Homo sapiens: one gene and its partners. The protein of the gene in region 1 interacts with the protein of each later gene in a biochemical or structural test. Each region holds a gene or a part of one and is shown in the gene's direction. Other genes may lie near its edges. The genes, in order: RPS6KA1, PTPN3, RADIL, ARHGEF11, GRID2IP, ARHGAP21 and ARHGEF12.

What was found.
Region 2: the proteins of RPS6KA1 (region 1) and PTPN3 interact in a test that uses a peptide from one of them, tested with the Homo sapiens proteins (2 studies listed by BioGRID and IntAct).
Region 3: the proteins of RPS6KA1 (region 1) and RADIL interact in a test that uses a peptide from one of them, tested with the Homo sapiens proteins (one large-scale study listed by IntAct).
Region 4: the proteins of RPS6KA1 (region 1) and ARHGEF11 interact in a test that uses a peptide from one of them, tested with the Homo sapiens proteins (2 studies listed by BioGRID and IntAct).
Region 5: the proteins of RPS6KA1 (region 1) and GRID2IP interact in a test that uses a peptide from one of them, tested with the Homo sapiens proteins (2 studies listed by BioGRID and IntAct, with this or other methods).
Region 6: the proteins of RPS6KA1 (region 1) and ARHGAP21 interact in a test that uses a peptide from one of them, tested with the Homo sapiens proteins (one large-scale study listed by IntAct).
Region 7: the proteins of RPS6KA1 (region 1) and ARHGEF12 interact in a test that uses a peptide from one of them, tested with the Homo sapiens proteins (2 studies listed by BioGRID and IntAct, with this or other methods).

What each region holds. Positions count from the first base shown.
Region 1 is NC_000001.11:26,567,761-26,571,260, forward strand, and holds part of RPS6KA1 (ribosomal protein S6 kinase alpha-1), read left to right. Parts: intron 1-3,500. UniProt on the Homo sapiens protein: Serine/threonine-protein kinase that acts downstream of ERK (MAPK1/ERK2 and MAPK3/ERK1) signaling and mediates mitogenic and stress-induced activation of the transcription factors CREB1, ETV1/ER81 and NR4A1/NUR77, regulates translation through RPS6 and EIF4B phosphorylation, and mediates cellular proliferation, survival, and differentiation by modulating mTOR signaling and repressing pro-apoptotic function of BAD and DAPK1.
Region 2 is NC_000009.12:109,404,308-109,407,807, reverse strand, and holds part of PTPN3 (tyrosine-protein phosphatase non-receptor type 3), read left to right. Parts: intron 1-1,189; coding exon 1,190-1,346; intron 1,347-3,199; coding exon 3,200-3,360; intron 3,361-3,500.
Region 3 is NC_000007.14:4,835,217-4,838,716, reverse strand, and holds part of RADIL (ras-associating and dilute domain-containing protein), read left to right. Parts: intron 1-1,266; exon of another isoform or gene 1,267-1,329; intron 1,330-2,111; coding exon 2,112-2,359; intron 2,360-3,477; coding exon 3,478-3,500. UniProt on the Homo sapiens protein: Downstream effector of Rap required for cell adhesion and migration of neural crest precursors during development.
Region 4 is NC_000001.11:156,934,340-156,937,742, reverse strand, and holds the end of ARHGEF11 (rho guanine nucleotide exchange factor 11), read left to right. Parts: intron 1-246; coding exon 247-494; intron 495-737; coding exon 738-927; intron 928-1,498; exon of another isoform or gene 1,499-1,612; intron 1,613-1,684; coding exon 1,685-1,743; 3' UTR 1,744-2,903; downstream 2,904-3,403. UniProt on the Homo sapiens protein: May play a role in the regulation of RhoA GTPase by guanine nucleotide-binding alpha-12 (GNA12) and alpha-13 (GNA13). Acts as guanine nucleotide exchange factor (GEF) for RhoA GTPase and may act as GTPase-activating protein (GAP) for GNA12 and GNA13.
Region 5 is NC_000007.14:6,509,962-6,513,461, reverse strand, and holds part of GRID2IP (delphilin), read left to right. Parts: intron 1-2,422; coding exon 2,423-2,554; intron 2,555-2,755; coding exon 2,756-2,853; intron 2,854-3,061; coding exon 3,062-3,179; intron 3,180-3,309; exon of another isoform or gene 3,310-3,446; intron 3,447-3,500.
Region 6 is NC_000010.11:24,615,888-24,619,387, reverse strand, and holds part of ARHGAP21 (rho GTPase-activating protein 21), read left to right. Parts: intron 1-3,500. UniProt on the Homo sapiens protein: Functions as a GTPase-activating protein (GAP) for RHOA and CDC42. Downstream partner of ARF1 which may control Golgi apparatus structure and function. Also required for CTNNA1 recruitment to adherens junctions.
Region 7 is NC_000011.10:120,482,913-120,486,412, forward strand, and holds part of ARHGEF12 (rho guanine nucleotide exchange factor 12), read left to right. Parts: intron 1-1,525; coding exon 1,526-1,595; intron 1,596-2,154; coding exon 2,155-2,165; 3' UTR 2,166-3,500. UniProt on the Homo sapiens protein: May play a role in the regulation of RhoA GTPase by guanine nucleotide-binding alpha-12 (GNA12) and alpha-13 (GNA13). Acts as guanine nucleotide exchange factor (GEF) for RhoA GTPase and may act as GTPase-activating protein (GAP) for GNA12 and GNA13.

The sequences.
Region 1 (3,500 bases):
GGTTACTGTGATGTCCATCATTTCCCAAGCCCTTTGCTAAATATTCCTGTCCTTCTCTATAAGCCTGGGGTTGAATACTATTATCAGCCCCATTTTACAAGTGAGGAAACTGAGGGCTACAGATGTTAAATGTCGTGCCCAAAACCACACAGCTGTGAGTGGATAGTAAAGCCAGGATTCACACCCTGGCCTGCCCGACTCCTTCCTGTGACTGGAATCCCAACTCTCCTGGAGGTCACGGCCTATTGCTCCAGTGCCTGCATTTGGCCTACACATATATTTTGTTTGGCCTGCAAGATAAGGGGTGTTTTTTGATTTGAGGTATGGTTTAGTAAGGTTTGGTAATTTGGCTGCTTTTAAAAACACTGGGTCCGAGTTGCTATGTAGTGACTGTCAGCTGGAGCCAGGTAGCTGCTGTCCTCTGTGGACTGCTTGGAGGTTCCCACTCTGCCTGGCTTCACTCATTACTTGCCCAGCCTGTTGTGATTTTCCATGCGGTGAGATGTGAGACTATACTTTTCCTCCCCCAACATACACTCCTGAGGGTCAGGTATCAGAATCACCTGTGGGGCTTTTTAAAGCTGTACTTCCCCTCCCCCACTCACCATCCCTACTATTCTGCCACTGGCAGTGGTGAGACAGTTTCCTATAGGAATTTGTAGTTTCTCTATGTTGTATTAGGGTAGGAAAAAAGATCAACAACTTGAGCCGGGCGTGGTGGCTCACGCCTGTAATCCCAGCACTTTGGGAGGCTGAGGCAGGTGGATTGCCTGAGGTCAGCAGTTCGAGACCAGCCTGGCCAACATGATGAAACCCCATCTCTATTAAAAATACAAAGAATTAGCTGGGCATGGTAGCAGATGCCTGTAATACCAGCTCCTTGGGAGGCTGAGGCAGGAGAATTGCTTGAGCCTGGGAGGCAGAGGTTGCACTGAGCCGAGATCACGCCATTGCACTCCAGCCTGGGCAACAAAAGCAAAACTCCATCTCAGAAAAATAAATTAATTTAAAAAAAAGGTCAACTTCCATATCCCTGTGTCCCAGTAGTGTCATGTGTGCCACACTAAACTGGAAAGACTATGGAATTCAGGTCAGAACTGGGTTCTGGTCTTGCCTCTGCCTCTAACCTACATGCAAGTGAGTTGTCCTCTCAGGCTGGGCGTAGTGGCTCACACCTGTAATCCCAGCACTTTGGGAGGCCAAGGTGGGAAGATCACTTGAGGCCAGAGTTTAAAACCAGCCTAGCCAACAGGGTGAAACCCTGTTTCTATAATACAAAAATTAGCCAGGCATGGTGGTGCACACCTGTAATTCCAGCTAACTGGGAAGCTGAGATATGAGAATTGCTTGAACCTGGGAGACGGAGGTTGCAGTGATCCAAGATTGTGCTGCTGGCGAGACTCCATCTCAAAAAAAAAAAAAAGAAAATTGTCCTCTCAGAGCTTTGGTTTTCTCCTCTGTAAAATGGAGCTAATAATTCCTGTCCACCCGCCGAGGTGCAGTGGATGGCTCCAGTGAGATCACGACTGGTAACATTCTTTGTAAACTGGAAGTTCACTTGTGCAGGGTAGTTGGTGTCCTCAGCCAAGCTGAGCATCCCTGACCTCTAGGTAGAGTCCACATTCCTGGGGGCCTGGCCTTGTGCTGTGGGCATACGATTGTGTTTGAAGGAGGGAGCCCACGGGACTTTCTCCAAGGCTTGGATACAGTGTGTTGCTGGGGCTACCCTAACAGTGTGGCCCTTTCCCCCTCATCTACCTGGCACTCTTCTCCCTATGGAGGTGGACTGTGCTGGGCCATGTCTACCTACTCCACGGGCTCCACGGGCATTGCTGGAGGGCTTGGAGATCAACTGAGACTATGAAAAGACTATCTGAATAAAACCAACTAACCTGCAAAACTCTACTAATCTAACCTGCAAGGTATCTGTCTCTGTGTTTCAGAGGTGTGATTTGTTCATTCATTGCACAAAGTTCACTTAGCATTTGCTCTGTGCTAGGCCCTGCACTGGGTGCTGAAGGTGAACGGGCATTCCACAGACATAGGGTTATGATCGTTACCGAAGGAGCCCCTGGTGGCCTGAGCTCAGGGCACCTGAGGGATGCAATGGACAGTGAGGCTGGAACAGATGATGGCTGTGCCTCCCATGTTAGGGTAGGGACTTTGGGCTTTATCTTGCAGGTAGGGAGCCTTTGAAGGTTTTTTGACAATGCCCAGGGAGGTTCCATTAGCTTAGGGGAGGAGGAGCAGGAAGATGAGAACATGAGGAGTTTAGTGTGGGATGTGTTGAGTTTGAGGCTCTGTGGAACATCCAGTGGTTGCCTTGTGGTAGGCAGTTGGATTTATGAGCCAAGACTCAGGAAAAGTTCTGGACTAGGGTTAGAGATCTGAGAGGTATTGGTAGTTGATAGTTAGAGGATTGACTATGAATGGAACTGTACAGGCCAGGCACAGTTACTCACACCTTTAATCCCAGCACTTTGAGAGGCCCAGGCAGGAGGATCACTTGAGCCCAGGGGTTCAAGAGCAGCCTGGGCAACATAGCGAGACCCTGTCTCTGCAAAAAATGTTTTAAAAATTAGCTGGGTATGGTGGCACATGCCTCTAGTCCCAGCTGCTTGCGAGGTCGAGGTGGGAGGATCACTTGAGCTCAGAGATTGAGGCTGCAGTGAGCCATGAATCATGCTGCTGTACTCCAGCCTGGGCAACACAGACCCTGTCTCAAAACAAAACAAAACAAAAAAGCCTTACAGAGTGTGGGGAGGAGAAGAATGAAATGTGGGGTGGTTCAGCCCCCTCAAGTTACAGATGAGCAAACAGGGCCCAGAGGAAAGCCGTTTGCTTATGGCCTCAGCAGTAAGTGTCATTCATCCATTCATTCAACAGATATTTATTGAATACCTGCCATGTACTAGGAGCTAGTTTAAGTGCTGGGATACAGCAGTGAGCAAAACACTCAGGGAGCTTACATGCCGGTGGGCAGACTCAGAAAACAAATTAAATATTATGTTAAGTAGTGGGAAGTGCTACAGATAAAAGTAAAGCAGTGTATTCTTTGATTTTAAAGATAAGGAAAATAGGGCCAGGCGTGGTGGCTCACGCCTGTAATCCCAGCACTTTGGGAGGCCGAGGCAGGCAGATCACTTGAGGTCAGGAGTTTGAGACCAGCCTGACCAACATGGTGAAACCCCATCTCTACTAAAAATACAAAAATCAGCCAGCCATGGCGGCGGGTGCCTGTAATCCCAGCTACTTGGGAGCTGAGGCAGGAGAATTGCTTGAACCCGGGAGGCGGAGGCTGCAGTGATCTGAGGTCGTGCCACTGCACTCCAGCCTGGGTGACAGAGGAAGACTCCATCTCAAAAAAAAAAGACTTTTAAGATTTTGACCTAAGTAACAGGAAGGATGGAGTTGCCACAAGGTAAGATTATGTGATGAGTAGGTTTTAGGGGAGAATTGAGAGTTCAGTTTTGACAGGTTAACTTAGAGCTACCTGTAGA
Region 2 (3,500 bases), on another chromosome or scaffold:
GGGAGGCCGAGGAGGGTGAATCACTTGAGGCCAGGAGTTTGAGACCAACCTGCCTGGCCAACAGGGTGAAACCCATCTCTACAAAAAATACAAAAATTATCTGGGTGTGGTGGCACACAGGTGTGATCCCAGCTACTCAGGAGGCTGAGGCAGGAGAATTCCTTGAACCCAGGAGGCAGAGGTTGCAGTGAGCTGAGATCACGCCGCTGTACTCCAGCCTGAGCGACAGAGTGAGACTCTGTCTCAAAAATAAAATAAATTTATTTTATTGTTTTTAAAATAATATCAAGTAATTTTTTCGTTTAATTTTTTTATTGTGCATACTCAAGGTGTACAACATGATGTCTTGTTATACATATAGTACTGCAGTCAAACAAATTAACATGTTCATCACTTTCCATAGTTAACCTATTTTTCTTTTTTAAGAGACAGGGTCTCGCTCTTGCTCTGTCACCCAGGCTGGAATGCAGTGGTATGATCACTGCAGCCTCAAACTAGGCTCAAGCGATCCTCCTGCCTCTGCCTCCCAAGTCGCTGAGACCACAGGTGTGTCCCACCTCACCTGGCTCCATAGTTACCTTTTAATCATCTGCTTTTTTAAAGCAGTAGGAGTCACTGTGCCTCCTTACAGTGAACCACGTTGGGATTTTACTCTGAGGTAGTCCTTAAGCTCTTGTCATTTAACTTTTGTTACTGTTTACAGTTTCTGTAAATTCAGAAGGCTTTCTTTCCTGTGCTGTTCAATTCATTGCTTCTCTCCATAATGGTTTTTGCCTCTGTTGTGAAGCTTACAAAAGCTTTCACCTTTGCAAGACAGATAAATACTCACCTCTAGCTGGCAAATCATTTCCTAACAGTACATCTAGGAAACAAAAGGCTGGAAATGGTATAGTTATATTATAATAAGTGAAGGTTGACTACCACGGAGAAATGGCTTCAGCAATTTTTATATCCTTATTCTGAAATGTTTCATAACTTATATTCTGAGCAGTACTTCTTTATATCTTACAACCATCTACCATGTCCACATAGCAGTGGATGCATTATACAAATAATGACAGTACTACCCGAGGGAGAGAAGGCAAACTTGATCATGGTCCCAGGTGTCTGGGAGCAGAGCGAGTCAGCGTTCTTCCCCCAAGGACTGTGTTATGGTAACAGGAGAAACTCGCTTTTCCCCACCACCCAGGCGGACACCTGCATTCCTAAGCTGAACGAAGGGGATCAAATCGTGTTAATCAATGGCCGGGACATCTCAGAACACACGCATGACCAAGTGGTGATGTTCATCAAAGCCAGCCGGGAGTCCCACTCACGGGAGCTGGCCCTGGTGATCAGGAGGAGAGGTAATGGCCACCTGGGGGGAGGAGCCATAGGGAAGCTGTCCTAGCCAAGCTGCGCCTGCTCCAGCCCTTTATCTGCTCTTGAAAATGTTGAGTTTGTAGCCAACATTTGAAAATCAAGAATCTTCAGGTAATAACCGAATGTTTGGCTTCTCACTTGAAAAATGTGAAGATCTGCCCCCAGGAGGCCTGTCCCCATGTGGCCAGTCTTCTGGGGGGAGACAGCGCCCCTGCAGCCCCTTTATACAGGACATGAGCCCCCAGCTCCCAGTTCCTCCCAGGCCCAGCGCAGCCCACATCACGCACTCTCTAAGTGGCATGACTCTGCAGACATTTGCATTTTCAGCCCCTTCTTAAAGGATCTGGTGATATTTTATTCGTGCGTGTTTGATTTTGTCGGGGAGGCAGTGAGGAGAGCAGGGTCTGACTGTCTCGGGTGATTCCTCACTCTGCCTCTGCGGGCTGGGGGACCTTGCAGGGGTTACATAACCAGTCTGTGGTTCAGCTGGCTCAGGTGTGGAGGAGGACAGCAGTGGTCCCGACTTCACAGGGTTGCTGTGAAGATTAAATGGCACTTGGGGCCAGGCACAGTGGCTCACACCTGTAATCCCAGCACTTTGGAAGGCCAAGGTGGGTGTATCACTTGAGGTCAGGAGTTCAAGACCAGCTTGACCAACATGGTAAAACCTCATCTCTGCTAAAAATACAATAGCCAGGCATGGTGCCATGTGGGTATAGTCCCAGCTACTCAGGAGGCTGAGGCAGGAGAATCGCTTGAACCCAGGAAGTGGATGTTGCAGTGAGCTAAGACTGTGCCACTACACTCCAGCCTGGGTGACAGAGTGAGACTCCATCTCAATCATTCAATCAATCAATGGCACTTAGACTGGAAAGTACCTGCATTGCTGCCTGATGGGAGCAGAGGTTTGAAGGACAGCCTCTACTGAGCATCACACTGTTGTCTTTATAGTTGTTGTTATAAAATAATACGTCAAGTTCCTTGAACACCGTGCACAGCTGTAAAATACTGAAAGTAAATGAAGGTTGTGTCTGCAAAGCCCTGCGTCTCTGCCTGCCTCACACGTTTGGCTGACACTCCATACTGCTGTGCTCCTGCCTCGGCTCTGCTCCCACTGCAACTCTCAGTCCAGAGCCACCAGGACCAGCTCTGACCCCACCTCCTCCGTGAGGCCTTACCAGATCTCTCCGGTTCCCCACCTGTGCAAGGTTGGGAGTTGTGGGGGGGTGGTCCTAGCTTTGCTTTCACCTGTATTGAATTTAACATGAAGGGAAAACGTGCACTAAAGAGGTAAGGCTGAAGCACAGAAGAGATGCTAGGACTACGATATTTACGTGGGAGCCTCCCACATAGAAACGGCCCTGAGTTAGGGATTGAGCTCTCAGGAATGATGGTGTCACAGGAAAAGCTTGGGACCTCACCCTCATGCCTGAGGAAATGCCCATTTTAGGGAAGTAAATGAAAAAACCTGAGAAAGAAAGGGGAGTCGGGATGGGTAGAAGAATAACCCGGTCAGAAAGAGCAAGCAGAAACAATATGCTTTTTTAAATAACATTCTTTCTCTTTTCTTTACCTTTGACAAAAGCCTCTGAGTGTTAAACACCATTATTTAAAACTAACCAGGAAGATTAGTATGTCATTTTATGTAATTAACACATATTGAATCATTCACCTAGAAGTAGTATCTTTGGTGAAAATGATTACCATGTAGCTTAATCATTTAATAAGATGTTTTGAACCATCTGCATTCAGGTGTCATAGGTGTGATTTGTTTGAGGGAGACGGATAAACCTGAGTATTGCTACACAAGTCAGATGCACTGTCTTGTACGTTACAGCTGTCCGCTCATTTGCTGACTTCAAGTCTGAAGATGAACTGAACCAGCTTTTCCCCGAAGCCATTTTCCCCATGTGTCCGGAGGGTGGGGACACTTTGGAGGGATCCATGGCACAGCTAAAGAAGGGCCTCGAAAGCGGGACGGTGCTGATCCAGTTTGAGGTAAGACCCTCTGGAGGCTGAATCCCACTGCCATGTCGCCTATTGGGCTGCCCCTGCCTCTGAGCAGTGGAGGAAATGAGGCAGAGACACAAGCCCTTGTTTCCTTGGTCGAGATGATTGTGTGTTTCACAAACCAAAAG
Region 3 (3,500 bases), on another chromosome or scaffold:
CCTCCGGCCCCTCGTTGGAGGCTGGCAGCCTGGCCCTTCTGCACACATGCAGGCCTACCCAGCACCAGGAAGGAGACCCTGGGAGTGGCCCCTGCGTGTCAGCATTGGTTCCGACCTGCAGAGAGCCCAGCCCTGGGCCTCAGGAGGCTGTGGAGCCTTGCCTGGAGGAGCAGGGTACACTCAGCTGCGAGCCACTTGCCTGGGGCTGCAGCCCCAGGGGACACAGGCCTGGGACATCCCGTGCCGCATTTGTGGCCAGGTCCTCTGGGAGCCCCTGGGACTCTAGGAGGAGAAGCAACCCTTCCTGCCCCATGGCCCTGGGACTTCCAGCAGGTCACTCTGAGGTCACCTCCTACAACCTGGCCCTGGATTTGGGAGAAAGTTGAGGGCCGGAGCATCATTTGGAGCTGTTTTTGTTCTTCTTTCGGATCTGGCCCCATAGTTGTGCAATGAGGCTGAGCTGTGGGGCTGGTAACGCTTGTGGGAGTGGCGGGTGGGATGAGGTAGGGGAACTGGGCCCCACCTGCTGGGCACCTGCCGCCTGCCAGGCTGGGCCGGGTTCTGCAGGCGGCAGGAGCACGGGTGGTGAGCAGCCCAGCCCAGCAGCCTCGCACTGCGGCTGGGCGGCCTCCCTCACGCCCTGGCCCCCTGCGGGCTGCAGATGCACAGGCTGCCGGCTGCCTTGGGAAGGACGGCGGGGCTGCTGGCGCTGGTAAGGGTCTTCCTCAGCCAGCTGACGCCTCCCTCCATCCGGCTTTTGTTTGGTTTTATTGGGAATGGTTGGAGGAAAGGCCGCCACAGATGGGGATGGATCTTAACCTGAAAGGCTGCGTACAGGGAACTCAGCAGAGGGCTCAGAAAAGACAGCGCCGGGTCAGCTGGGGACTGGTGAGCGGTTTTCATCTATCGCAGCCGGCTGGCTTTCCCAGAGCATGCATTTAGAGAGCGTGTCTGTATTTATGAGATATTAAGTCTTCTAAGGGTGTGTGTTATCTCTGAACTGTGCGCATGTTTGTGTGCATGTATGTGTTAATGTGTGTGGGTGCATGTGTGTTGGCGTGTGTGTATGTGTGTGCATGTGTGTTTTTGGGTGCATGTGTGTGCATGTGTGTGTGCATTTTTGTGTGGGTGCATGTGTATTTGTGGGCATGTGTATGCACACGTGTGTTTGTGTGTGTGCCTGCTTTGGCTTGGGGGTATCAGAGACAGCCTTGGGAAGGAGGCAGCGATGCTGTTGCAGGAGCAGGCCATCGGCAGCCCCATGGGCTGGGGTGATGTGGCACAGTGACACCTCCTCCTTGTAAAGTAGGGGCAGGATGCTGACCAGTCCGTCTCGTCTCGTCAGAGCACCACCCCCAGGGGAGTTTCGCCTGGTGCACAGATGGATGGGGCAGGGCTCTGGAGGCGGCGTGGTGACCCTGCAGAGGCCCAGGCTGCCGTGGGAAAACGTCTGTGGTTTGAGGCCTGTGGGCCGTGGTGCTGGCTGGTCGGGCAGGCCGCGGTGTGACCCTGGGCTGCTGCAGGGGAGGCGTGGTCCCCTCAGCCTGAGGATTTGACAGGCAGGCTGCCTGCTCTGAGACTGTTCTGTGGGTGCCACGGTGGTGCCAAGGCACTGTCTGGTTTTTCGAGGGGCGTGGCTAGAGGGCAGAGTCCTTGAGTCTCCACCAGACCTGTTTTGACAGAACAGTAACGGCATTAGGAGACGTGGCTTAGTGGGATTTGAACTCAGAAGGACCCGGGACATGGGCGCTATTAGACTTACCTGTTTTTTTTGGCGGGGGATGGAGTTTCGCTCTTGTCACCCAGGCTGGAGTGCAGTGGTGCAATCTCAGCTCACTGCCACCTCCGCCTCCTGGGTTTAAGCCATTCTCGTGCCTCAGCCTCCTGAGTAGCTGGGATTACAGATGCGCACCACCACGCCCAACTCATTTTTGTATTTTTAGTAGAAATGGGGTTTCACTGTGTTGGCCAGGCTGGTCTCGAGCTCCTGACCTCAGGCGATCCCCCCACCTCGGCCTCCCAAAGTGCTGGGATTACAGGGGTGAGCCACCGCGCCCAGTCCTGGTGCTATGAGACTTCTAACTGTTCACCTTGTGTTGCTTCTGTTCCAGGGATAAACGCCCAGGCCCGGAGGCTGCAGCGGAGTCGCGCGAAGGGAACCCCGACCCCGGCCCTGGGGGATGCCCGGAGCTCTCCTCCACCCCGGTTGCGCCGCACAGTCAGTGAGACCAGCCTGAGCCCAGTGAACGCCCTGCCCGCTGCCGCCCAGGGCCCCGAGGAGCCCGGCCCCGACGCCATGCGGTACTCGCTGTACCAGTCCCCGCATCTGCTCCTTCTGCAGGGCTACAGCCAGCAGCACGTGAGCCTCCCCTCCTGACACCCACTGCCCGGTGCCACTGCAGGGACAGCAGGCGGGACTCAGAAGTCAAGGCCTCCGCCTGCCTTTAGCCCAGTCGGCCGCGAGCTCTGTGGCTGCAGCCCCTCTGGCTGTGCCGAGGCTGTGGAGTGGGATGGCGGGGGCACATGTGGAGTCATCCACATTTTCCCTGTCCAGGCCACGGTGGGCGGCAGTGGGGGCTCCTCACTTCCCCAATCCCAGAGTGGGTGCCCTCAGCACCAGGCGCCTTCAGGGAGAACTCCTCACGCCTTCCCAGCCTTGGTCTCCCGCCTGGCTCTGGGGAAGGGCATGGGCAGTTGGCCAGGGCCAGTCTGCTTCCTGCTTCTGGCGAGGGGGCTGCTGAGTCACCAATTGGTGGCCACATTCTCTGAAGGGGCACCGAGCAAAGGCCCATGCCACCCCTATCTGCCCAGAGCCGTTTCTCACCACTTCCATCAGAGCAGGCAGGCTGTCGCCCCGAGCAAATGCCAGGCGCAGGGCCACCTCGCCTCACCTTGCCGGACACTTGCCCTGCCAGACAACTGTTTTCCCCGCCCCCTGCTCACCCTACCCCCGCCCTCCTGTGCAGCCAGCTCCTTTGCTGCTCATTTCCATGAGCACTTTACAGCCATAGGGCTCCTGTGCCCAGGTTTTAGGTGGCATCTTCCCTCGGGGCAGTGCTCTCACACAGGCGGCAGTGCTCCCACACTGGGGGTGGTGCTCCCACACAGGCGGCAGTGCTCCCACACAGTTTTGGGGATGACTTGGGGGAAGTTATGTAGTCCTTGGCCCGGTCTGTAGAACCAGTGCCTGTTTCCCGGCCAGCCCTGACCTGGCCTGTCGCTGTCTCAAAGCTGGGTGTCTCCTGGGTCTCTCGTGTGCTCCTCCGGGAAACCGACCTCCTCTGGGATGGGCCCGGACATCGAGGGGCGGGTTCCTGAGAGCCGTCGGGGTTCTGGTGTGGGGGTGGCCAGGGACATGGAGAGCCCGTGGCGACAGCATCCCAGCCACGCTGCTTCAGCAACCAGTGACTAGACACGGGACGCTTTTCCCGTGTGCTGCTCGCGTTACGCCTGCCCTGAGCGGAGTCTCTGTTTCAGGACAGCCTGGTGTATGTGCTCAA
Region 4 (3,403 bases), about 130 Mb from region 1:
CTTGAGTTCATCGCTCAGCATCTCCCCCAGCTTGGGGCCAGACTGAGCAAGTGTCATCTAGAAGGTCTCGGGAGCAGGGCTTTTAGGGGGCTGGCAGACAGTGAGCAAGGCCCACGTTCTCTGAGTTTGTCTGGAGAGGACTGCCTGGCCTGCTCTGTCAGGTGGCTGGGGAATCCCACAGGAACGGGAGGATAGCTTCGACTTCTCTGTTTGCCTCCTGATCTCATTCTCTTACTGTGGGGACAGGGAACTGCTTTTATGTCAGCATGCCATCAGGACCCCCGGACTCAAGCACCGACCACTCAGAGGCACCCATGAGCCCCCCTCAGCCTGACAGCCTCCCTGCAGGGCAGACAGAGCCTCAGCCTCAGCTGCAGGGAGGCAACGATGATCCAAGACGCCCCAGCCGCTCTCCTCCAAGCCTGGCCCTCAGGGACGTGGGCATGATCTTCCATACCATTGAGCAGCTCACTCTCAAGCTCAACAGGCTCAAGGTGAGGGAAGCAGGGCTTGGGTCCCTGCAGGCCTTCAGTCCATCACCCCAAAACCATTCCCCATGAGTGAGATGTGTGTCTTCGCGGGAGCCCTAGATCCTGTCCTGGCCCAGGGATCTTCCCCCAGCCCGCCCAGCCACCCTTAAATCACACCCTCCTCCCCAAGGCCCAGCACAGACCCCTTCCCCAGGGGCCTTAGGAATAGAAGGACTCGAGCAGACATTCCCCCGCCGACTCTTCCAGGATATGGAGCTGGCCCACAGAGAGCTGCTCAAGTCCCTTGGGGGAGAGTCATCTGGTGGCACCACGCCTGTGGGCAGTTTCCACACAGAAGCAGCTAGATGGACAGATGGCTCCCTCTCACCTCCCGCTAAGGAGCCCCTAGCTTCTGACTCCAGGAACAGCCATGAACTGGGGCCCTGCCCTGAGGATGGTGAGTGAAGCCAGGTCCCTCTCGGTTCCTACCATTGGGGGAGAAGTCTGCCAACTCGTGAGGACACATCACTAAGCAGTGAGAGATGGTGGTTCTGAGAGTGGTTTCCCCTTGAGTGAAACGAGTTCATTCTCTCAGCTTCAGAGAGGGATCTTTTTAGGGAAGTCCCACAGAAGCTCCCTGGCAAAATGGGGAGCTTAGCACTGAGCCCTCTTTTTCCTTGTGCTATGGAGGTAACAAACCAGGAGGAGCCTGTTCTCACCTCTAAGACTTGTTCTTTTTTTAATTTTATATATATATATATATATATATATATATTTTTTTTTTTTTTTTTTCTATTTATTTGAGACAAGGGCTGGCCTGGCTATGTTGCCCAGGCTGGTCTCAAACTCCTGGGCCGAAGTGATCCACCCACCTCAGCCTCCAAAGCAGCTGGGATTGCAGGTGCACACCATGGTGTCGGCCTAAGACTCGTGCTGATTAAATGATTCAGAACCACACTGGGTGGGCCAGGGACACAGCTATGTCATAACTCAGGAAGACAAGGCACATACCTACCTGACCTAAGGGCTTTAGGCGCTGATGAAAGTGGAGTTCAGTAGACAGCCCTTTTCAAGCCCTACGAGAAACTGGGGTTTCTGGAGGAGAAGGAAGGTGATGAAGGATCTGTTCTCGTGAGCCTGAACTTTCTAGACAAAACATGTGGAAGCGGTCACCTCAGGCTGGCCAGTTCCTCACCTTCATCCTCCTCCCACAGGCTCTGACGCCCCCCTGGAAGACAGCACAGCAGACGCAGCCGCGTCACCAGGACCATAACCGTACAAACCACCAAATCCTCTGCGTCCCCACTCCTCCTTCAGGGACTGGCCTGAGACCGGGGCACAGGGTAGGGGGGATCCCAACACTCCTCCCTGTGGAGGAGGCAGTTAGGGAAACTAGGATCCAGCCAAGGCCCGGGGGGAGACCCGCATGTTGCTTGGTCTGCTCAAGTCGGAGTCAGGTTTCAGTGTCTTTTCCCTCCCTTAGCCCAACCCTCCAAGGCCTCATGTCTCCTAAGCATGCTGACTGCATCCGAAAGGCCCCCACTCACCATGGTCTGCCCTCACCCCACATATGTGTGTACACGCGCACGCCTGTATGTGCGCTGCCCTCAGACATGCAAGTGAAAGGAGGAGGCTTCTGTGTAAATGCACTTTCTTCCTCCCCTCTTTCTCCATAAGACCCCAGGCAGAGGTGGGTGCCTCCCCTCCCCTCTTTGTCACTTTGGTTTCCTATAAATATGTATGTATCGTATGTGCATCTTTGCTATTGTAAATAACTTTGACCTTTTTTGTTCCTGTTCCTGAAGTGCTGGAGGCAGTTATGGAAGGAGCTGCTTAGGGAAGAGGGGTTTCACTTGTATCTCCTTAGTTAACAACCCAGTTCCAGGATCGAGCCTAAAGCGGGAGCCAGGCCTGAGTGTTCCTGTCCCTGTGAGTGGGAAGGTCTTCTGGCTCCCCATCCCACCTGGCTCCAGAGCCTGCCCTCCACAGCTTGCTGCCAAGCTACTCCCTCCCTCCCTGGACTTCTCATCTTCACAAGATGGGGATCATGGGGGTTTCTTACCCCACCTATGTCCCCCTCTTCCCCACCCTGTCCCTGTAGAAAACCAGTGAAGCAGGTACGGAGCTGAGGACTGGGCCCCAGGAGGTGGGGACAGGGGTCTGAATGCCGAGTCCCTGAATTCACCCAGGACCATCCAAGGGGCCACCGCAGCATTGGCCCCATCACCACGTCCTCACCCAACTCTCCCTGATGAATAGAATATACACACTGTGCTAGGTGTATATATACATATATATATATATAAATATATATATAATATATAAAATATAGATATGGAAATGACTGTTCTGCTGTTAAGATAATGTATACTCTTTTATTTTCTTCCTTTCATGGTTAAGATTTTTTTTTTAAGAAAAGTTAAATATCCTTCAGTGGTGGTGTGTGTGTTTCTTGGAATCGCTGTGATAAAAGGTACGGTGTTTGTTCCCTGTAAGACTGGTTAGGATTGGATAGTGGGAACCAGAGGGAGCCCTCTCACCCCCAGACCCAGATCTTGCCTGTTCCCTCCCAGAGCTTCAGCTGTGCACTCACTGAACTAGGGACTGGGCAAACTTAAGTTGTACAACCCCCATGGAGAAAACATGACAAGACACTGAACTCAGTTACACACACACAGATATATATATAGATACATATATATACACACATATATAGATATACACACACACACACATATATATACACATATATGTGTATATAAAGGAGCAGTGGACCCAGAGTCAAGAGGTCTCATGAGCTGCCCTCAATGAGCTTGAAGACTTTAAAAGCCAAATCTAAGTGGGAGGGTTGCCTCAGGCCTGGCCAGTTCATCACTGTCATCATCCATCCACATCCTCCCACAGACGCAGCCACATCACCAAGACTGTAACCA
Region 5 (3,500 bases), on another chromosome or scaffold:
CATCACTTGAGCTCAGGAGCTCAAGATTAGCCTGGGCAACATAGCAAGAGCCTGTCTCTACCAAAAAAAAAAAAAGTTTTAATTTAGCCAGGTGTGATGCACACCTGTAGTCCCGGCTACTTAGGAGGCTGAGGTGGGAAGATGGCTTGAGTGCAGGAGATCAAGGCTGCAGTGAGCTATGATCAAGCTACTGCCTCCAGAAAAAAAAAAAGGAAAGAAAAAAAGAAAAAAGAAAGAAACTCACGTGGTTGCCAGACATGCCAACACCACCACCAGGATCATGAGCACACGACCACATCCCACCTGGCTGGTGGGCTCCCAGTGTACTCTTTCTTGCACACACACAGGCCTGCAGTGCCATGTGTGGCTGCCACCTGTCTGTTCAGCGTGCCCTCCGAATGCCCACAAACCCCTGCACTCAGCATGCAGGTCATGTGGATGGAAGGTGTGCCGAAGCCTGTGTTCTACCCTGTTCTAGGCATCCTGCACCTGCTATGAAAGCCGCTGCAGGTGCAGTGGTTCACTCTTGTAATCCCAGCACTTTGGTAGGCTGAGGTGGGTGGATCACTTGAGGTCAGGAGTTCCAAGTCCAGCTTGGGCAACACAACAAGACCCCCATATATTCAAAATATTTAAAAATCAGCCAGGGGTGGCCGTGCGCGGTGACTCACGTCTGTAATCCCAGCACTTTGTGGAGCTGAGGCAGGCCAATCACGTGAGGTCAGGAGTTCGAGACAAGCCTGGCCAACATGGGGAAACCTCATCTGTACTAAAAATACAAAAATAAGCCAGGTGTGGTGGTACGCAGTTGTAATTCCAACTACTCGGGAGGCTGAGGCAGGAGAATTGCTTGAACCTGGGAGACGGAGGTTGCAGTGAGCTGAGATCGCACCACTACACTCCAACCTGGGCAACACGGTGAGACTCCATCTCAAAGAAAAAAAAAATAAAAAATTAGCCAGGCGTGGTGGTATGCACCTGTAGTCCCAGCTACTTGGGAGGATGAGGTGGGAGGAGCACTTGAGCTCAGGAGTTGGAGACCAGCCTGGGCAACATAGCAAAAAAATTTGAAATTAGCTGGGTGTGGTGGCACACACCTGTAATCCCAGCTGCAGGGGAGGCTCAGGCAGGAGGATCTGTTGAGCCTGGGATTCAAGGCTGCACTGAGCCTTGATTGCACTCCAGCCTGGGGGACAGAGTGAGACCTGTCACAAAAAAAAAAAAAAAAAAGAAGAAAAGAAAAAAAGGCAGGTGTGGTGGCTCACATCTGTAATCCCAGCACTTTCAGAGGCTGAGGCAGGTGGATCACCTGAGGTTAGGAGTTGAAGACCAGCCTGTCCAATATGGTGAAACCCCATCTCTGCTTAAAAAAAAAAAATACAAAAATTTAGCCAGGCATGGTGGTGCATGCCTGTGGTCCCAGCTACTTGGGAAGCTGAGGCTCGAGAATCATTTGAACCTGGGAGGTGGAGGTTGCAGTGAGCTGAGATTGTGCCACTGCACTCCAACCTGGATGAGAAAGCCAGACTCTGAATAAATAAAGAGAGAAAGAGAGAAAGAGACAGAGAGAGAGAAAAGAGAGAAAGAGAGAAAGTGAGAGAAGGAAGAGAAGGAAGGAAAGGAAAGGAAGGAAAGGGAAGGGGCCGCTGCAGAGTTGCTGGTCCTTGTGTGCCCATGAGCTGCAGTCCCAGGGACCCACAATTTGCTAGGGTTTTAGCGAGAAGCTCAGGATCCATGCTGGACCACACATGCCTTACATATCTGCGTAGGCTCAAAAAACTTCTATTTTGGCCGGGAGCAGTGGCTCACACCTGTAATCCCAGCACTTTGGGAGGCCGAGGCAGGCGGATCACCTGAGGTCAGGAACTTGAGACCAGCCTAGCCCACATGTTGAAACCATATCTCTACTAAAAATACAAAAATTAGCCAGGCATGGTGACGGACACCTGTAATCCCAGCTACTTGGGAGGCTGAGGCAGGAGAATCGCTTGAACCTGGGAGGTGGAGGTTGCAGTGAGCTGAGATTGCACCACTGCACTCCCACCTGGGCAACAAGAGCAAAACTCAGTCTCAAAAAAAAAACACTTCTATTTTGCCCATAATCCTCTCTGGGCAGCAGTGACTTGGCCTGGGGCAAGCACAGGGCGTTGAGACTCTGGAAGCTGTTGTCATGAGATCTCTGCTAGGCCCCTGAGTTCAGGCTAGCTGCATTCTGGTGCTGCATTCTGGTGCTGCTCCTGGCACCTGGTTTCTTGCCCTGGGGCTTCCCCTCAAGAGCTGTTCTGGAGGCAAGCAGGGCAGGCCCCGTAGCTTGGGGTCTGCATATTGGTGCAGATGACATCTGCCCTCCCCTCCCTGTTTTGGAGGTCCCTTGTCTGGCTGAGAGGGCAAGAGGGCCCCATGTTCCCTGCATGTCCCACAGCAGAGCCGGAGCCTGAGCTGGACCTGGAGTCCGAGCCCACGCCTGAGCCCCAGCCGCGGAGCTCCCTGCGGGCTTCCTCCATGTGCCGCCGCAGCCTCCGGTCCCAGGGCCTGGAGGCCGGCCTCAGCTGCGGTAAGGCTGGTGTCAGGGGGAGGGTATGAATGGAGCTCAGTTTTCCCACCTGCAAAATGGGCTTGGTGAGGTGGGGAATCCCAGGGAATGGGGCTAAGCAGGGCTCAGGATTGGCCCTCCTGGGTCTGCGGGGCATGTTGGTTCTGGGCCGGGGCCTGAGCCGTAGAGCTCAGATACGGTAATGACATTATTCCCCGGTAGGTCCCAGCGAGTGCCCTGAGATGCCTCTTCCCCTGATCCCAGGCGAGCGCCAGGCAGGCGACGGCACGTCCCTCCCTGAGACCCCCAACCCCAAGATGGTGAGACCTTCTCTGCCCTCCACGTGGGGTCAGTAGGGGGCAGGGAATGGACGGTCCATAGGACTGGGCCCAGGAGACCCAGGCCAAGGCGTCCCTGTGCTGCTTCAGGCTGGGGCATATCCCTGCCTCCCGGCCCACCCAGGCCTGGACCACATTAGGGCTACGAGGGGAAGCAGAATGGGCTGGACTCTCCCCCGTCTCCCTCCAGATGTCAGCCGTCTATGCAGAGCTTGAGTCTCGACTGAACAGCAGCTTCAAAGGGAAGATGGGGACCGTGTCCAAATCCCGGGCTTCCCCTCCAGGCCCCAGCCCAGCAGTCACCACAGGTAGGGCTCCAGCCTCTGTCATCTACTGTCTGGGTGTTTCCCTCCACCCCAGGCTCAGCCCTGGAGCTGCTTCTCTGCTCCATCAGGGTCAGGGTTGTCCCAGTCCCTCCCATGGCCCTGTGACCCTCACCTCAGCTGTGGATCAAGAAAGTAGCCTGGGTACCGTGGGTCGTGCCTGTAATCCCAGCACTTTGGGAGGCCGAGGCAGGAGGATCAATGGAGCCCAGGAGTTTGAGACCAGCCTGGCAACATAGTGAGGCCCCATCTCTAACAAAAAAAATACAAAATTAGCTGGGCATGGTTGCATATGCCTGTAGTCCC
Region 6 (3,500 bases), on another chromosome or scaffold:
AGAAGTCTTACACTGTGATTTTAAAATGTTTCTAGTGAATCTCATAAGCTGTGCTTCAACCAGAGCTTTCACAAACCTCTTTAAAAGTTATTTCTAGTACCAATTTTCCTTTTTTTAAAAAAAAAACAAAAACTTCATGTACCTAGTACCCATTTCAAATTTTTATTTTGATGAAACAAATTCCTGAGATTAAGGAAATCAGCGAAGCAAATTATACCTAATTGTTGATTCAGGTGAATGAAAAACCAAGTGGAACAGTTTTGATAATTAGTTACCAACCTTTCATTTAAACAGTGCTTTTACTTTCTAAAACATATTTCTTTGTAAATTTAACGTGTACTGAGAGAAAAGACCTCTTCATTGTCAAGTTAGTTTGCCATACTATAAATCCTGGAACAGATTTAGAGAAGTTACTTAAATTATAAGCGTGTGCCACAGTTGCCGGCACCTGTCCTGTTGAGTCTTCTGTCTGCTCCCTCCCACCCCAGATCTGTTCTCCATACAGCAGCCAGTGTGATGTTTTTAAAAATGTCAATTAGATCACACCACTCCTCTGTGCAGAACCCTCTGTTTCCTTCCCATTCATCTCACCCAAAATAGCATGCAAAATCCTCCCGTGATCTGAAAGGCCCTCCATGGTCTGCCTCACAACTCCCTCTCTGATGGTGTCAGAGAGATCCTACTTCGTGATCTCCTATCACAATCTTCCATGTGCATCCCATCTGCAGCCTCACCAGCCTCCTTGCTGTCAGGTGTGTGTTGCTACAGGGACAGGTACAGCTGGTTTCTAACCCTGGTATACATTCCACAGATAGTTAACAAGCCTCTGTCTTCCTCATGACATTTGGGTCTCTGCTCAAAGATCTTATCCAAGCAGGCTTTGTGACTCACCTATCTAAAACAGGTATCCCACGCACAGACACAGAAACGGACATTCTCTTCCCTTAAGCTTTTTTATTTATCTTCGTATTACTGTTTCCACTTGACATGTTTTGTTTTTTTGTTACATGTTTCTCAGTAGAACTAAAACATAAACTACATGAGAGCAGAGATTTAAAATCTTTGGTTCACTTTTGTGTCCCTAATGCCTAGAACACTGCGTGGCACATAAAGAATTCACTCAGTAAGTATTTGTTGAGATAATGGCTGAAAGACAATTTTGAAATGCTGGTTAAATGTATAGCACAACAATACAGTTCTCATCATGACTGTGCAGCTCTAAAACATCATCTGCTAACAGGTGATGACTTATGTCCTTAATATTATCTTCATTTTATAAGTGAGAAATTTAAGGTATAGAGAGGCTAAATAACATCTCTAAAATCGCATAGTAAGTGATAAGAGACAGGGTCTCTAGGTTTGCCTCATTCAGCCTCGTCCCAGAGCACAGCTCCAGGGAGCACGCCATTTATATGGAATGCCTGTGAAGAGCGCCCCCTGGAGGCATGCGATGCAGGGGCTTTTTTCCTTCTCTTTTTGCCACCAACCAAGGCCATACTTGTAGTCCCCCTGGTGTCCCATGGGTTTATGAAAAGAGTTCTCCATCATTTTACAATATAATATGCTTCTCTTTGAGTACTAGTTGAGTTTTTCTTTTCTACGGGAACATTTTTAAAGCTGTTGAGGACTGTTGTTTCTTTTCTACGGAAACATTTTTAAAGCTATCAATTGTAAAGCTATTGATAGCTTTAAAAATGTTTCTTGAGAAAACACTTAATTGGATAGGTGACACTAAAAGCTTTTTTAAAAAGTTCCACACAGCTTATGTTTTTTTTTATAAATCGGATATATTCAAGTTGTCAACATTGTGGGGAATCTCAACCTAAATTGTACCCATATTCATATCTATACCCCTAAGGCCAAGCTCAGCAAATAGTAGACTCCTGTTGTAGATGGAATCTTATACATCATCTAGAATAGATATTTTATAGAAGGCAACTGATGACGAATGATTGTTTTATGAAGTTTTAAAATGTAAAAAAATCTTACAACCTGTGGCTGTTTCACAGGCCCATGCGATCTTATCAGAACAGTGGCATCATATTTTCTTCCTACATAATAACAACAATATAATCAGATTACATTGGAGTAGTAAAAAAATGTGCTGGATATATCTGTTAATATTTCTTCCTAGTTATGAAGTATAGAAATAAAACAATTATGTTATTAAAGAGAAGATTTTGGCTAAAATAGAAAATAAAGATCTGTATAATTCTATATACATATAGATTGATGTAAATAAATAATTTTATTTACTAAGAATAAAAGTACTCTCTAATTAGTTCCTATCTTATTTGACTTTCGCCCTCCTTCCCCCGCTGCTCACCTTCTGCTGTGCGGCCCAGCTCCTAACCGGCCATGGACCAGTACCAGTCTGCAGCGCAGGAGTTGAGGACCCCTGCTATATACTAAGGTTGCAGGAGGCATACAGGCATACAAAACAAAATGAATACATTTTGTTTTTAAATTTGGAATATTACTCATTAACAGTATTTTGTTTACTGTTCCCACCCCCCACTTTATAAAGCTGCATAGTAAGTCCTGAAAATAAATTTCAACTTCTTTTATAAGTAAACACAAACCTCAACAATGTGAGCTGTTCATGAGTAATCTCACGGTGAATAGCAGATATTACAATGTGTTCTAAAATCCTGACTTCCTACACTTCTCTAATTTATACCACTCATTACTAGTAATACAAAAATGCTACGACTGTTACCTACACTCAGGGTTTCATCTTAACTTTCTTTCTCCATAGTTTTGTCATATCTCTTAAGACTCCTCCTCCATCTTACCCCAACATTGGCTGCGTGTGTGCTCAGTTGAGGGTTAGCCCTAAGTTAAATTGAATTTGATGGTCACAGCCTTATTGGCACTGCCATATCAAGATGATTTAGAAGTGTTAGATTTGGTAAGATATAGCTGGATTACATTGTCCATACAGGGGAACTTAGCTCCCTGAAATTTACCCAAAGGGAAGAGGTGACCATTCCCTATACCCAGTTTCTCCCTTTGGGAGCTCTGGGCTCAGTGCCAGTGGTGATATGACAGGACGATGCAATGAGCACCCAGCCCTTCTTTAATACTAATTCAGGCTGAGTCTTAGCAAATAGTCTGTTTATAAAGAGAAATCATATACTTTATCATCTTACATCTTTTATAAAGAGAAATCATGTACTTATCATCTTTATATGTCTTTTTCATATATTGGCTTTTCCCAAAAATGTGATGCCATTGGTACTTAAGCTTAGAGATTTTTGCTTCCACTATTTGAGTAACGATGTGAGGTAATTTAAAAAATAATAAAATAGTCCGGGTGCAGTGGCTTGCGCCCGTAATCCCAGCACTTTGGGAGGCTGAGGCAGTCAGATCACTTGAGGTTGGGAGTTCAAGACCAGCCTGGCCAACACAGTGAAACTCCATCTCTACAAAAAAAAATACAAAAATATTAGCTGGGCGTGGTGGGGTGCCTGTGAGCCCAGCTACTTGGGAGGCGGAGG
Region 7 (3,500 bases), on another chromosome or scaffold:
TTTTCCCTCTTCATGTTACTTATTTTATGTAGTATCATTCTGTAGCTGATGAGATATCGACAAGCCCATTGAGGACAGGTCGGTTCTTATATACAGTCATGTGTTGCTTAGCAATGGGGATATATTCTGAGAAATTCATCATTAGGCATTTTTATCTTTGTGTGAACTTCACAGAGTGTACTTACACAAACCTAGATAGAATATATCTTTATTTACATAGATTTTTTCATATGGAAAGCCAAATCTCTCAACACTATTACTGAATATTAGTCATTTCCCCTACCTGATCAGCAATGCCATTATTAAGTGCCACACACCAGGTTTCTACATGTGCTCCATAATAATCTTTTTTTTTTTTTTTTTTTTTTGAGACAGTCTTGCTCTGTCACCCAGGCTGGAGTGCAGTGGCGCTATTTCGGCTCACTGCAACCTCTGCCTCCCAGGTTCAAGCGATTCTCCTGCCTTGGCCTCCCAAGGAGCTGGGACTACAGGCACCACCACCATGCCCAGATAAATTTTTTTTTTTTTTTAAATGGAGTCTCGGTCTGTCACCCAGGCTGGAGTGCAATGGTGCAATCTCGGCTCACCGCAACCTCCGCCTCCCGGGTTCAAGCGATTCTCCTGCCTCAGCTTCCTGAGTAGCTGGGATTACAGGTGCCCGCCACCACACCCAGCTAATTTTTTTCTATCTTTTAATTTATTTATGTATTTATATTTTTTGAGACAGAGTCTTGCTCTGTCGCCCAGGCTGGAGTGCAGTGGCATGATCTCTCCTCACTGCAAGCTCCACCTCCCAGGTTCACGCCATTCTCCTGCCTCAGCCTCCCCAGTAGCTGGGACTACAGGCGCCTGCCACCATGCCCGGCTAATTTTTTTTATTTTTAGTAGAGACGGGGTTTCACCATGTTAGCCTGGATGGTCTCGATCTCCTGACCTCGTGATCCGCCTGCCTCGGCCTCCCAAAGTGTTGGGATTACAGGCGTGAGCCACCGCGCCCAGTCCCAGCTAATTTTTATAATTTTAGTAGAGACAGGATTTCACCATGTTGGCCAGGCTGGTCTGGAACTCCTGACCTCAGGTGATCCACCTGCCTCGGCCTCCCAAAGTGCTGGGATTACAGGCGTGAGCCACCATGCCCCACCCATAATAATCTTAAGGGACCATCATCATGTATGCAGGCCGCCATGTCTTTATGTGCTGCATGACTATAGCTCATGCACATGATGACGGGACCATGTCCAGGGTGACTCCTGGGGGTGGGAGAATTGCATCTATGGTTACCACCTCTACTTTCTTTTTACATGGGAAAATACTAAGTTATTCCTTCAGTGGAGAAATTGGTAAAAGGAATGAAATTTACTTTTTTCTTCCCACTAATGAAATTTTTAATGATGAAGTTAATATTTTTGAAATTTGGGGGCTTGTACCTGTAATGTAAAAAGGGCTTCTTTTCTGTTTTCTGAAGTTTTTGTTTTGTTTTGTTTCATTACGTTTGAATAAAAAACCTATGGGTTTTATTTCACAGAAGGTGGAGGAAAGTTACACCATTCTTTGCCAAAGGCTGGCTGGATCAGCCCTCACAGACAAGCACTCAGGTATGTAAAAGTTATGAGTTCCAGACTCTAGACTAATCATCCTACACTGAATGAAATGACTTATCATACTTTGAAGTGAAAACCTTCTGAGATTCCATTTCTCTTCTGTCTTTAAAGAACTGCCTGTTTCTAAACATCAGATATCAAGCGGAAGCTCATGCCTGCTGACTCTACTCTTCTCTAAGAGGAACTGCAGTTGTCAGTTCCCATACCATCCCCTCTTCTCTCTCTTTTCACCTTTTCAAAGCAGAAGGCAGAGCAGTGGGAAGCCTGGTAAATCACAGATTCGGTGTGAGGCTTACTGGTACTGCTGTGACTCCCTAGTGTGGAGGATTTGGCCTTATTGGATGTTGGTGCACTTGCCTCTGCTGACAGTGTGGCTGGTGTCTCCCCTGACTGCAGATGGATTTGTGTTCCCTGCAGCAGTTTATACTCATCTGCTTACATACTGATTCAGAAACAAAGATTGAACCACGCCCACAGATGTCATGGGTATTCTTTGCAATGTTAGTATATTCTTTTTCTTAATATCATTTCCATGTATCTTTATTCTTCTCAGATAAAAGTTAGAGCCGCATGTCCTGGAGGTGACTGCAGGTTGTTGGATTTGGAGTATCGGCCGTGTCTCACCACATCCTGGCTCCAGTGTGGATGCAGAGAGAGTGTGACAGAGGATCTGCCTGTGAACCACCTGGGATTAGTCAAGTCCCAAGGTGCCCAGAGTGGGACTAGTTCTTCACAGTGTGGCAGCTGCACTAATCTGTTTGTGAGGGAATATCCATTCCCTCACTCTACTCTCCTCACTATCGGAAATTCATTTTGATTCAGAATAAAAACCAAATGTATAGAGCTTTGGGTGTAGGATATGAAATTGTACTTAGATTTAAGAAAAAGAGAAAATCAGATGTATTTATTTGACTTCATTCCGTATTTGAAAGCACATTTTAATTTTTATTTGCCTTGTTTTGTTTTAATTGAGTAGTGAGAGTTTTAGACCTTTGTCTTTAGTACACCCAAGGATCAACTGCTCCTGAAGCAAAGAGGTCAGGATGGAGTATGCAGAAGTTGGGTAGAGAGGTTAAGAAGAGGAGGAAGTGAGACGGGGAAGGGAGGAGCACCTTGCTTCACTATACAGTATTCCAAGCTCTCTGCTGTCCAGTAGGCTGCTTCTCTGAGGGTCACCTCAAAGGTATGCTATGCCGTGTGGCTCTTATGTGCCCAGGTGGTGTGGTCAGAGAGTGGATGGGCTTCCTCCCGCCCTGAGGCAAGCACCTCTTCTCTGTAGCTGGGATCAACCACAATTAATAGGAATCCTCAACATACTAAATAGCAGGCACTTGAAAATGGGTGTGTTTTCTTCCATTGTCGTCTTTTCTATTGAGGGTTGGGATTTGGGTGGGAGAGGAAAGCAAATTTTATTTTCTTGACTATAAATTTGTTATTCTTGGTATCATTTCATTTTTATAATTATACATTAGACATTGGCACTTGTGTAAAACTGTCCCTGCAGATTGAGCAGGAAGTAAAAACAAATGGAAATGCTTCGGATAGTGGCAGGGGTGGGGGTTGCTAAGGAAAGGGTGGGATGGGAGTGGGTAAAGAGTTTGGGAAGGTTATCTAACTGAATCACTACTGAGTTGAATCATGGCTATCATTAGCCACAGGTACTGCTGATTATAAGGCCAGTAAAATTTTAGTACCTGGAGGTTTGACTCTAATTTTTGCACTGATGGTGCCAAAGGGCCCTGAGTCAAAAGGATAGCCAAGGGTGGAGTGGAAAAAGATATGGTGAAGGCAGAACTGCTCACACCAGCTCCAGAAGCACGTCCTCTGACTTCACTGCCGCAGCTCTTTCCACACGGGGCCGTGATTGACCCTAAAAATTGCAGACCAGCACATACACTG